Linked DNA regions of Homo sapiens. The protein of the gene in region 1 interacts with the protein of each later gene in a biochemical or structural test. Each region holds a gene or a part of one and is shown in the gene's direction. Other genes may lie near its edges.

The links. Proteins that work in one complex are often made in the same cells at the same time.
Region 2: of the proteins of PRTN3 (region 1) and SERPINA1, one has a biochemical effect on the other in vitro, tested with the Homo sapiens proteins (one study listed by BioGRID).
Region 3: the proteins of PRTN3 (region 1) and IL32 interact in a biophysical measurement, tested with the Homo sapiens proteins (one study listed by IntAct).

What each region holds. Positions count from the first base shown.
Region 1 is NC_000019.10:846,337-848,675, forward strand, and holds the end of PRTN3 (myeloblastin precursor), read left to right. Parts: coding exon 1-41; intron 42-1,413; coding exon of another isoform or gene 1,414-1,434; exon of another isoform or gene 1,435-1,462; coding exon 1,463-1,633; 3' UTR 1,634-1,839; downstream 1,840-2,339. UniProt on the Homo sapiens protein: Serine protease that degrades elastin, fibronectin, laminin, vitronectin, and collagen types I, III, and IV (in vitro).
Region 2 is NC_000014.9:94,382,103-94,385,602, reverse strand, and holds part of SERPINA1 (alpha-1-antitrypsin precursor), read left to right. Parts: intron 1-2,223; exon of another isoform or gene 2,224-2,361; 5' UTR 2,362-2,365; coding exon 2,366-3,011; intron 3,012-3,500.
Region 3 is NC_000016.10:3,064,247-3,068,439, forward strand, and holds the start of IL32 (interleukin-32), read left to right. Parts: upstream 1-1,393; 5' UTR 1,394-1,441; exon of another isoform or gene 1,442-1,537; 5' UTR 1,538-1,565; coding exon 1,566-1,580; intron 1,581-3,130; coding exon 3,131-3,169; coding exon of another isoform or gene 3,170-3,307; coding exon 3,308-3,367; intron 3,368-3,737; coding exon 3,738-3,764; intron 3,765-3,933; coding exon 3,934-3,993; intron 3,994-4,193.

The sequences.
Region 1 (2,339 bases):
TTTGCACTTTCGTCCCTCGCCGCAAGGCCGGCATCTGCTTCGTAAGTAACCGTGCCCCCACCCCGGGCACCGGGCTGCCATGAGGGGAGGAGGGCGGCGGCCAGGGTTCCACGCCACCTCTTAGCTGTGTGGCTTCATGCTGTGCCTCAGTCTCCCCACCTGGAAGGTGGGCACACCCAACACCCAACGGGCAGGCTCAGCGGGGTGGGGGCGCTCACATTGCACCTGGCTGCTTGGGTGGGTCTGGGGGTTCCCTGCCCCCCACTCCCCTCTAGGACCACAGGAAGGTGTGGGAGACCCATCCGCCCTCACCGGCGGCCCCTTCCAGAATCCAGGACTCCAGGTATCCAGCGGGAGGCCCATAAATGCCCAGTTCCTACGAAAGACCTCAGCCCCTCCCTGCTCACACTTTTTGTTTGTTTTTGAGACGGAGTGTCGCTCTGTTGTCCAGGCTGGAGTGCAGTGGTGAGATCTCAGCTCACTGCAACCTCCACCTCCCAGGTTCAAGGTATTCTCCTGCCTCAGCCTCCTGAGTAACTAGGTGCACAGGTACCTGCCACCGTGCCTGGCTAATTTTTTTGGTATTTTTAGTAGAGATGAGGTTTCTCCATGTTGACCAGGCTGGTCTTGAACTCCTGGCATCAAGTGATGCCTGGCTGGTGCTCACACATTTTAAAGAAAATTCCAGGCCAGCAGTGGTGGCTCACGCCTGTAATCTCAGCACTTTGGGAGGCCAAAGCGGAAGGATCTTTTGAGTCCAGGAGTTCAAGACCAGCCTGGGCAACATAGCAGGGTGGCATCTCTACAAATAATTTAAATATTAGCTGGGCATGGTGATGTGAGCCTGTAGGCCCAGCTACTCAGGAGGCTAAGGCAGGAGGATCACTTGAGCCTGGGGAGTTCGAGGTTGCAGTGAGCTATGATTGTGCCACTGCACTCCAGCCTGGAGAACAGAGCGAGACCCTGTCTCGAGAGAAAGACAGCCAGCTACTCGGGAGGCCGAGGCAGGAGAATCACTTGAACCCGGGAGGCAGAGGTTGCAGTGAGCCGAGATCACGGCACTGCACTCCAGCCTGGGTGACAGAGCGAGACTCTGTCGCAAACAAAACAAAAACAAAACAAAACAAAACAAAAGGAGAAAGAAAGAAAGAGATAGAGAGAGAAAGAAAGAAGAAAGAAAGAAAAAGAGAGAAAGAAAGAAAGAAAGAAAGAAAAAGAAAGAGAGAGAGAGAGAGAGAGAGAGAGAAAGAAAGAAAGAAAGTTCCATATTGGAAGCATTTTATTCTGAAACAGCTGTGGCTACCCCAGCCCCCTTCCTGGCTGCCTGGGGCCAGCCCGGGTGACTGGCTGTCCCCATCCTCCCGGGAGACTCAGGTGGCCCCTGATGGGTGACTGGCCGTCCCCATCCTCCAGGGAGACTCAGGTGGCCCCTGATGGGTGACTGGCCGTCCCTGTCCTCCAGGGAGACTCAGGTGGCCCCCTGATCTGTGATGGCATCATCCAAGGAATAGACTCCTTCGTGATCTGGGGATGTGCCACCCGCCTTTTCCCTGACTTCTTCACGCGGGTAGCCCTCTACGTGGACTGGATCCGTTCCACGCTGCGCCGTGTGGAGGCCAAGGGCCGCCCCTGAACCGCCCCTCCCACAGCGCTGGCCGGGACCCCGAGCCTGGCTCCAAACCCTCGAGGCGGATCTTTGGACAGAAGCAGCTCTTCCCCGAACACTGTGGCGTCCGGGACGGCCCCACCCGTCCCCCCACACTCCCTCCCACGGGGCTCCGGGAGACAGGCCGGCCCTGCACCTCACCCCACCGTGACCTCAATAAACGTTGAAACTCCCCCTGGCTCCTGTCTGTCCTTCCCATATAGGGAGGGGAGGGGGAACTGCCCACCGTGACCTCAATAAACGTTGAAACTCCCCCTGGCTCCTGTCTGTCCTTCCCATATAGGGAGGGAACCAGGGAGAGGTCCCCTGGGTTCAAGTCCCCGAGCCCCAAACTCAGGATGGGGGGAGTCGGAGCGGGGGATGGGGGCCCAGGTTGCAGGGGGTCTCTCTCCTGGATGCTCGTGGCTGTGGGTTCTAACCCGGCCCCATCAGGGTGGCCCTGGGCAGGTTGTTATTCATCTCCGTGCCTCAGTTTCCTCATCTGGAAAATGGACTCGCCCCAGACGTTTCCTAGAACTGTCCCTGCTGGCTCAGGGACTCCTTGAGGAAGGGGATGGGGATGGGGAAGCAGCCTGGGGGGCTTCCTGGAGGAGGTGGCAGTGCCAGAGCTGCATATCAAGGTGTGAACAGAAACATCCGAAGGGCTGCCAGGCAGGGGGCACAGTCCAGGCAG
Region 2 (3,500 bases), on another chromosome or scaffold:
GTAACCCCAGCACTTTGGGAGGCCAAGGCAGGCGGATCAAGAGGTCAGGAGTTCAAGACCTGCCTGGCCAACACGGTGAAACCTCAGCTCTACTAAAAATACAAAAATTAGCCAGGCGTGGTGGCACACGCCTGTAATCCCAGCTATTTGGGAAGCTGAGACAGAAGAATTTCTTGAACCCGGGAGGTGGAGGTTTCAGTGAGCCGAGATCACGCCACTGCACTCCACCCTGGCAGATAAAGCGAGACTCTGTCTCAAAAAAAACCCAAAAACCTATGTTAGTGTACAGAGGGCCCCAGTGAAGTCTTCTCCCAGCCCCACTTTGCACAACTGGGGAGAGTGAGGCCCCAGGACCAGAGGATTCTTGCTAAAGGCCAAGTGGATAGTGATGGCCCTGCCAGGGCTAGAAGCCACAACCTCTGGCCCTGAGGCCACTCAGCATATTTAGTGTCCCCACCCTGCAGAGGCCCAACTCCCTCCTGACCACTGAGCCCTGTAATGATGGGGGAATTTCCATAAGCCATGAAGGACTGCACAAAGTTCAGTTGGGAAGTGAAAGAGAAATTAAAGGGAGATGGAAATATACAGCACTAATTTTAGCACCGTCTTTAGTTCTAACAACACTAGCTAGCTGAAGAAAAATACAAACATGTATTATGTAATGTGTGGTCTGTTCCATTTGGATTACTTAGAGGCACGAGGGCCAGGAGAAAGGTGGTGGAGAGAAACCAGCTTTGCACTTCATTTGTTGCTTTATTGGAAGGAAACTTTTAAAAGTCCAAGGGGGTTGAAGAATCTCAATATTTGTTATTTCCAGCTTTTTTTCTCCAGTTTTTCATTTCCCAAATTCAAGGACACCTTTTTCTTTGTATTTTGTTAAGATGATGGTTTTGGTTTTGTGACTAGTAGTTAACAATGTGGCTGCCGGGCATATTCTCCTCAGCTAGGACCTCAGTTTTCCCATCTGTGAAGACGGCAGGTTCTACCTAGGGGGCTGCAGGCTGGTGGTCCGAAGCCTGGGCATATCTGGAGTAGAAGGATCACTGTGGGGCAGGGCAGGTTCTGTGTTGCTGTGGATGACGTTGACTTTGACCATTGCTCGGCAGAGCCTGCTCTCGCTGGTTCAGCCACAGGCCCCACCACTCCCTATTGTCTCAGCCCCGGGTATGAAACATGTATTCCTCACTGGCCTATCACCTGAAGCCTTTGAATTTGCAACACCTGCCAACCCCTCCCTCAAAAGAGTTGCCCTCTCAGATCCTTTTGATGTAAGGTTTGGTGTTGAGACTTATTTCACTAAATTCTCATACATAAACATCACTTTATGTATGAGGCAAAATGAGGACCAGGGAGATGAATGACTTGTCCTGGCTCATACACCTGGAAAGTGACAGAGTCAGATTAGATCCCAGGTCTATCTGAAGTTAAAAGAGGTGTCTTTTCACTTCCCACCTCCTCCATCTACTTTAAAGCAGCACAAACCCCTGCTTTCAAGGAGAGATGAGCGTCTCTAAAGCCCCTGACAGCAAGAGCCCAGAACTGGGACACCATTAGTGACCCAGACGGCAGGTAAGCTGACTGCAGGAGCATCAGCCTATTCTTGTGTCTGGGACCACAGAGCATTGTGGGGACAGCCCCGTCTCTTGGGAAAAAAACCCTAAGGGCTGAGGATCCTTGTGAGTGTTGGGTGGGAACAGCTCCCAGGAGGTTTAATCACAGCCCCTCCATGCTCTCTAGCTGTTGCCATTGTGCAAGATGCATTTCCCTTCTGTGCAGCAGTTTCCCTGGCCACTAAATAGTGGGATTAGATAGAAGCCCTCCAAGGGCTTCCAGCTTGACATGATTCTTGATTCTGATCTGGCCCGATTCCTGGATAATCGTGGGCAGGCCCATTCCTCTTCTTGTGCCTCATTTTCTTCTTTTGTAAAACAATGGCTGTACCATTTGCATCTTAGGGTCATTGCAGATGTAAGTGTTGCTGTCCAGAGCCTGGGTGCAGGACCTAGATGTAGGATTCTGGTTCTGCTACTTCCTCAGTGACATTGAATAGCTGACCTAATCTCTCTGGCTTTGGTTTCTTCATCTGTAAAAGAAGGATATTAGCATTAGCACCTCACGGGATTGTTACAAGAAAGCAATGAATTAACACATGTGAGCACGGAGAACAGTGCTTGGCATATGGTAAGCACTACGTACATTTTGCTATTCTTCTGATTCTTTCAGTGTTACTGATGTCGGCAAGTACTTGGCACAGGCTGGTTTAATAATCCCTAGGCACTTCCACGTGGTGTCAATCCCTGATCACTGGGAGTCATCATGTGCCTTGACTCGGGGCCTGGCCCCCCCATCTCTGTCTTGCAGGACAATGCCGTCTTCTGTCTCGTGGGGCATCCTCCTGCTGGCAGGCCTGTGCTGCCTGGTCCCTGTCTCCCTGGCTGAGGATCCCCAGGGAGATGCTGCCCAGAAGACAGATACATCCCACCATGATCAGGATCACCCAACCTTCAACAAGATCACCCCCAACCTGGCTGAGTTCGCCTTCAGCCTATACCGCCAGCTGGCACACCAGTCCAACAGCACCAATATCTTCTTCTCCCCAGTGAGCATCGCTACAGCCTTTGCAATGCTCTCCCTGGGGACCAAGGCTGACACTCACGATGAAATCCTGGAGGGCCTGAATTTCAACCTCACGGAGATTCCGGAGGCTCAGATCCATGAAGGCTTCCAGGAACTCCTCCGTACCCTCAACCAGCCAGACAGCCAGCTCCAGCTGACCACCGGCAATGGCCTGTTCCTCAGCGAGGGCCTGAAGCTAGTGGATAAGTTTTTGGAGGATGTTAAAAAGTTGTACCACTCAGAAGCCTTCACTGTCAACTTCGGGGACACCGAAGAGGCCAAGAAACAGATCAACGATTACGTGGAGAAGGGTACTCAAGGGAAAATTGTGGATTTGGTCAAGGAGCTTGACAGAGACACAGTTTTTGCTCTGGTGAATTACATCTTCTTTAAAGGTAAGGTTGCTCAACCAGCCTGAGCTGTTCCCATAGAAACAAGCAAAAATATTCTCAAACCATCAGTTCTTGAACTCTCCTTGGCAATGCATTATGGGCCATAGCAATGCTTTTCAGCGTGGATTCTTCAGTTTTCTACACACAAACACTAAAATGTTTTCCATCATTGAGTAATTTGAGGAAATAATAGATTAAACTGTCAAAACTACTGACAGCTCTGCAGAACTTTTCAGAGCCTTTAATGTCCTTGTGTATACTGTATATGTAGAATATATAATGCTTAGAACTATAGAACAAATTGTAATACACTGCATAAAGGGATAGTTTCATGGAACATACTTTACACGACTCTAGTGTCCCAGAATCAGTATCAGTTTTGCAATCTGAAAGACCTGGGTTCAAATCCTGCCTCTAACACAATTAGCTTTTGACAAAAACAATGCATTCTACCTCTTTGAGGTGCTAATTTCTCATCTTAGCATGGACAAA
Region 3 (4,193 bases), on another chromosome or scaffold:
TGGGGTGGATCCTACTTCTTTTTTTTTTTTTTCCGAGGGGAATTTTCATTGTTGTCCCCCAGACTGGAGTGCAGTGGCACCATCTCAGCTCACTGCAACATTCGCCTCCCGGGTTCAAGTGATTCTCCTGCCTCAGCCTCCCGAGTAGCTGGGAATACAGGTGCCGGCCACCACGCAAGGCTAATTTTTGTATTTTTAGTAGAGACAAGGTTTCACCATGTTGGCCAGGCTGGTCTAGAACTCCTGACCTTAGGTGATCTGCCCGCCTCGGCCTCCCAAAGTGTTGGGATTACAGGCGTGACCCACTGCGCCCGGCCTAGGGTGGACCCTATTTCAATATGACTGGTGTCCTTTGGAAAGGGGAAAGGGGGACAGTCACACCCAGGCAGAACGTGATGAAGATGAAGATGGCCATCTACAAGGGCAGGAGAAACCTGAACAGAATCCCAGCTCCGGGCCCTCAGAAGGACCCCACGCTGCCCACATTGACCTTGGACCTCCAGCCTGCAGATCGTGAGGGAAGAGACGTCTTCGACTTAGGGCCCCTTGTCGTGGTACTTCCTTAGTTTGGCCCCAGGAAACCATCCCAAAGGCAAGGGCGTGGTTGTGCTCAGCTGGGGGAAGGGGGCTGGGGGCCGTGAGGAGGAGGTGGGAGGCCCAGCCAGGCTGGAGGGTCAGAACCCGTGGAGCTAGAAGAGCCCGTAGGGGAGCCCCAAGATTGCTGAGACCAGTGACCTTCGGCCCCAGATGGCCTTGCCTTGGCCCAGAAGGGTCAGAAGGACCTGGTCAGCCAAGCTCAGACAGCCGGCAGGATGCCTTCCACCCTGCAGAGGGTCCTATCTTGTCCCACAGGTAGATCTACATCACCACTAGCCACCCCTCCAACGTGCACAGGCCCCTGCCCTCACGGCGCCCCTCTTAGGTCCGGCAGTTCCTGCCTCCTTCTGATCCAGAAGTTTCTCTGGCCTCTGGAGCCGGGGCACACCTCATGCAAGGACAGGGTCCAAATTCCTTTGTCCTTGGATCCCACTTGGCTGACGTCACCTTCCTGTACTCAGGGAGTTTCCCCAGCCAGCTGTCCCGAGTCTGGACTTTCCCTCTGCCCCTCCCCACTCTCAGGCTGGTGGGGTGGGGAAAGCAGCCCATTCCTGGGCTCAGAGACTCCCACCCCAGCTCAGAGGGAGCAGGGGCCCAGCCAGGGACGGACCCTCATTCCTCCCAGGGACCCCAGACCTCTGTCTCTCTCGGGTAAGTCTCCATCTCTGTCTGTCTCTGTCTCTGTCTCTGTCTCTGTCTGTTTTTCACGCACTCAGCAAGGCCTCCTGCCCTGAGAGAGGCTCCGCCCACTACCCCCCACTTTCCCCATAAAACCAGCTGAGTATTTGTGCCAGGAAGACTGCGTGCAGAAGGTGACTGTCTCAGTGGAGCTGGGTCATCTCAGGTGGGGAGTTGGGGTCCCCGAAGGTGAGGACCCTCTGGGGAGGAGGGTGCTTCTCTGAGACACTTTCTTTTCCTCACACCTGTTCCTCGCCAGCAGGCCTTGGCTCCTTGAACTTTTGGCCGCCATGTGCTTCCCGAAGGTGAGTGAGAGGCTGCGTGTGCTTTTGTGGGCATGTCTGAAAACAGACCGTAAGGGTGCGGGTGCCCTCAGTATTTCCCGAGGTGCCTGTGTGTCAGGGCTCAGTCAGGGGCACCCAGCGGCAGGAGGATAGTGATGGGGTGAGAGTGTCAGTGGAGGCGCTGGAGGTCATATGTGTCGGGGGCGCTGGAGAACGGCAGGGGTGTGGATGAGAGGGAGCACCTGTCCCAGGAGCCCTTCACAGCCCGGAAAGCCCGGGGCAGGGGTGGGGCAGGGCTCTGCTGGAAACGACTCGGAGAATGCTTCTCTCAGAGGCCGGCTCAGCTGGGTGGGCCCAAGAGCAAGGCCTGTGTGGGTCCTGGTGTCTCTTCCTCCTTTCCTGGGTTCCCTCCGACCTCCCATCCTCTACCACTGCCCCACCGCAAATGCTAGGCCCACCACACCCTCCAGGGAGCTCTTCGGCCTGTGACAATAGGGGTTTCCATGATGTGGCCTGGCTCAGGTTCAGGACAGTGACCCGGAGGACACATGGCTCCCGCATGTCGGCACGGTGCTGCTTTCACCCTGGTTCCTGGGAAATCAGGCTAGCGGGATGGGACCATCGCTGCCTGAAAGTGTGCAGACAGCTGCCCTGCCCAGAATATGTCCCCAGGCCCTGCGCACTCTGTGGGTGACTGTCACCACTCTATAGTGGGGGAAACCAGGCATGTCACCCCCGAGACTAGGCCCTTGACGTGGGGGCTCAGCGGGGATTCTGTGGGGTGCCTCTGGCCTCTGTGGATGCAGCCACGTGTCTGCAGGCAGGAATGGCCCGGGACCTGTGGGTCTGCATGTTGGCAGTCGGGAAGAGTGGCAGGTTGTAGGGTGGACCTACCTGGCACCCCAAATATTAATCAGCTCATCAGAGAGGAATGGCTGCTGTTACCTTCTCAATTGTCATGTCCCTAAACATTTTTTCCTTGGCCAACTCTCACCTGGGACCATAGTGGTTGTGGGAAACCCAGCTGAGCCAGCCTGCTCCAGGACAGTGTCCATCCTCCCGTGTGTGTACATGGGGGGGTGTGTGTGTGCAGGGAGGACACCCCGGCCCACGCAGGCCCTGCTCTTGTGAGGAGGGGTCACCTAGGCCCACGCAGGCCCTGCTCTTGTGAGGAGGGGTCACCTAGGCCCACGCAGGCCCTGCTCTTGTGAGGAGGGGTCACCTAGGCCCACGCAGGCCCTGCTCTTGTGAGGAGGGGTCACCTAGGCCCACGCAGGCCCTGCTCTTGTGAGGAGGGGTCACCTAGGCCCATGCTGGCCCTGCTCTTGGGCCTGCCCAGCTGAGCCGGCTCCTGAGAGAAGCGCTTTCTGAGTCGTTTCGAGGACAGCCCTGGCCGGTCTTTCCAGGCTGTGAGGGGCTCCTGGGACTGCTGTCTCCTCTTATCCTGTACCTCTGCCATGTGTCTCTGTGTGTGTGTGTGTGTGTGTGTGTGTGTGTGTGTGTGTATAAATTATCCTGGAGGAAAGGTTAAGGTGACACATGGAGACTGAGTGTCACCGTTATTTCCGCAGGTCCTCTCTGATGACATGAAGAAGCTGAAGGCCCGAATGGTAATGCTCCTCCCTACTTCTGCTCAGGGGTTGGGGGCCTGGGTCTCAGCGTGTGACACTGAGGACACTGTGGGACACCTGGGACCCTGGAGGGACAAGGATCCGGCCCTTTGGTGCCAACTCTGCCTCTCTTCACAGCACCAGGCCATAGAAAGATTTTATGATAAAATGCAAAATGCAGAATCAGGACGTGGACAGGTGGGTGGATTTCCCCTCAGGCACCAGGTCACATGTCCCCGCCCCCAGGCACTCCACCCTGTGTGGGGCTCAGGGTGAGAAGGATGAAGAGGGACCCACAGGCTCCCTCACCCCTTACCGTGGGCAAATGCTTGCACCTGGGTGGCAGTGAGTGGGCGGGTGGGGGATCTGGACGCCCGGGGAGACTGAGGGAGGCATCCAAGCCCCAGGGCTCCTTGAGGAAACAACAGGGGTGCCAGACGTGGCCCGGGCCCCTGGCTGGGCCCAGTTCGGGGTGTGTGGGAGCTGAGGACTCACTGGGCTTGAGGACTGACTGATGTGGGGTGCAGAGGAGGCTTGGGCCTGGAACCGAGTGCTTTGTTCCTAACAGGTGATGTCGAGCCTGGCAGAGCTGGAGGTGAGCCGTGGCCTCCCCCTCCACCAAGCTTAGTCCCTGGGTCTTAGGCTCCACAGGACACTGGGTCTGGGCCCCGGGTCCCCTTGGGAATCACCTGGACCAGTGGGGGCCACAGTGGGAAGGGGGCAGGCAGGAGCAGCATGAACCCCCTGTGCCCTCCTCTCCCCAGGACGACTTCAAAGAGGGCTACCTGGAGACAGTGGCGGCTTATTATGAGGAGCAGCACCCAGTGAGTATGACACACCCATCTGGGCACCTTGCCTTCCTTCACCTCTGCCCTGTCTTTTCTTTCTTTCTTTCTTTTTGTTTATTTGAGACAGAGTCTCGCTCTGTCGCCCAGGCTGGAGTGCAGTGGCATGATCTTGGCTCACTGCAACCTCCAAATCTCGGGTTTAAGTGATTCTCCTGCCTCAGCCTGACAAGTAGTTG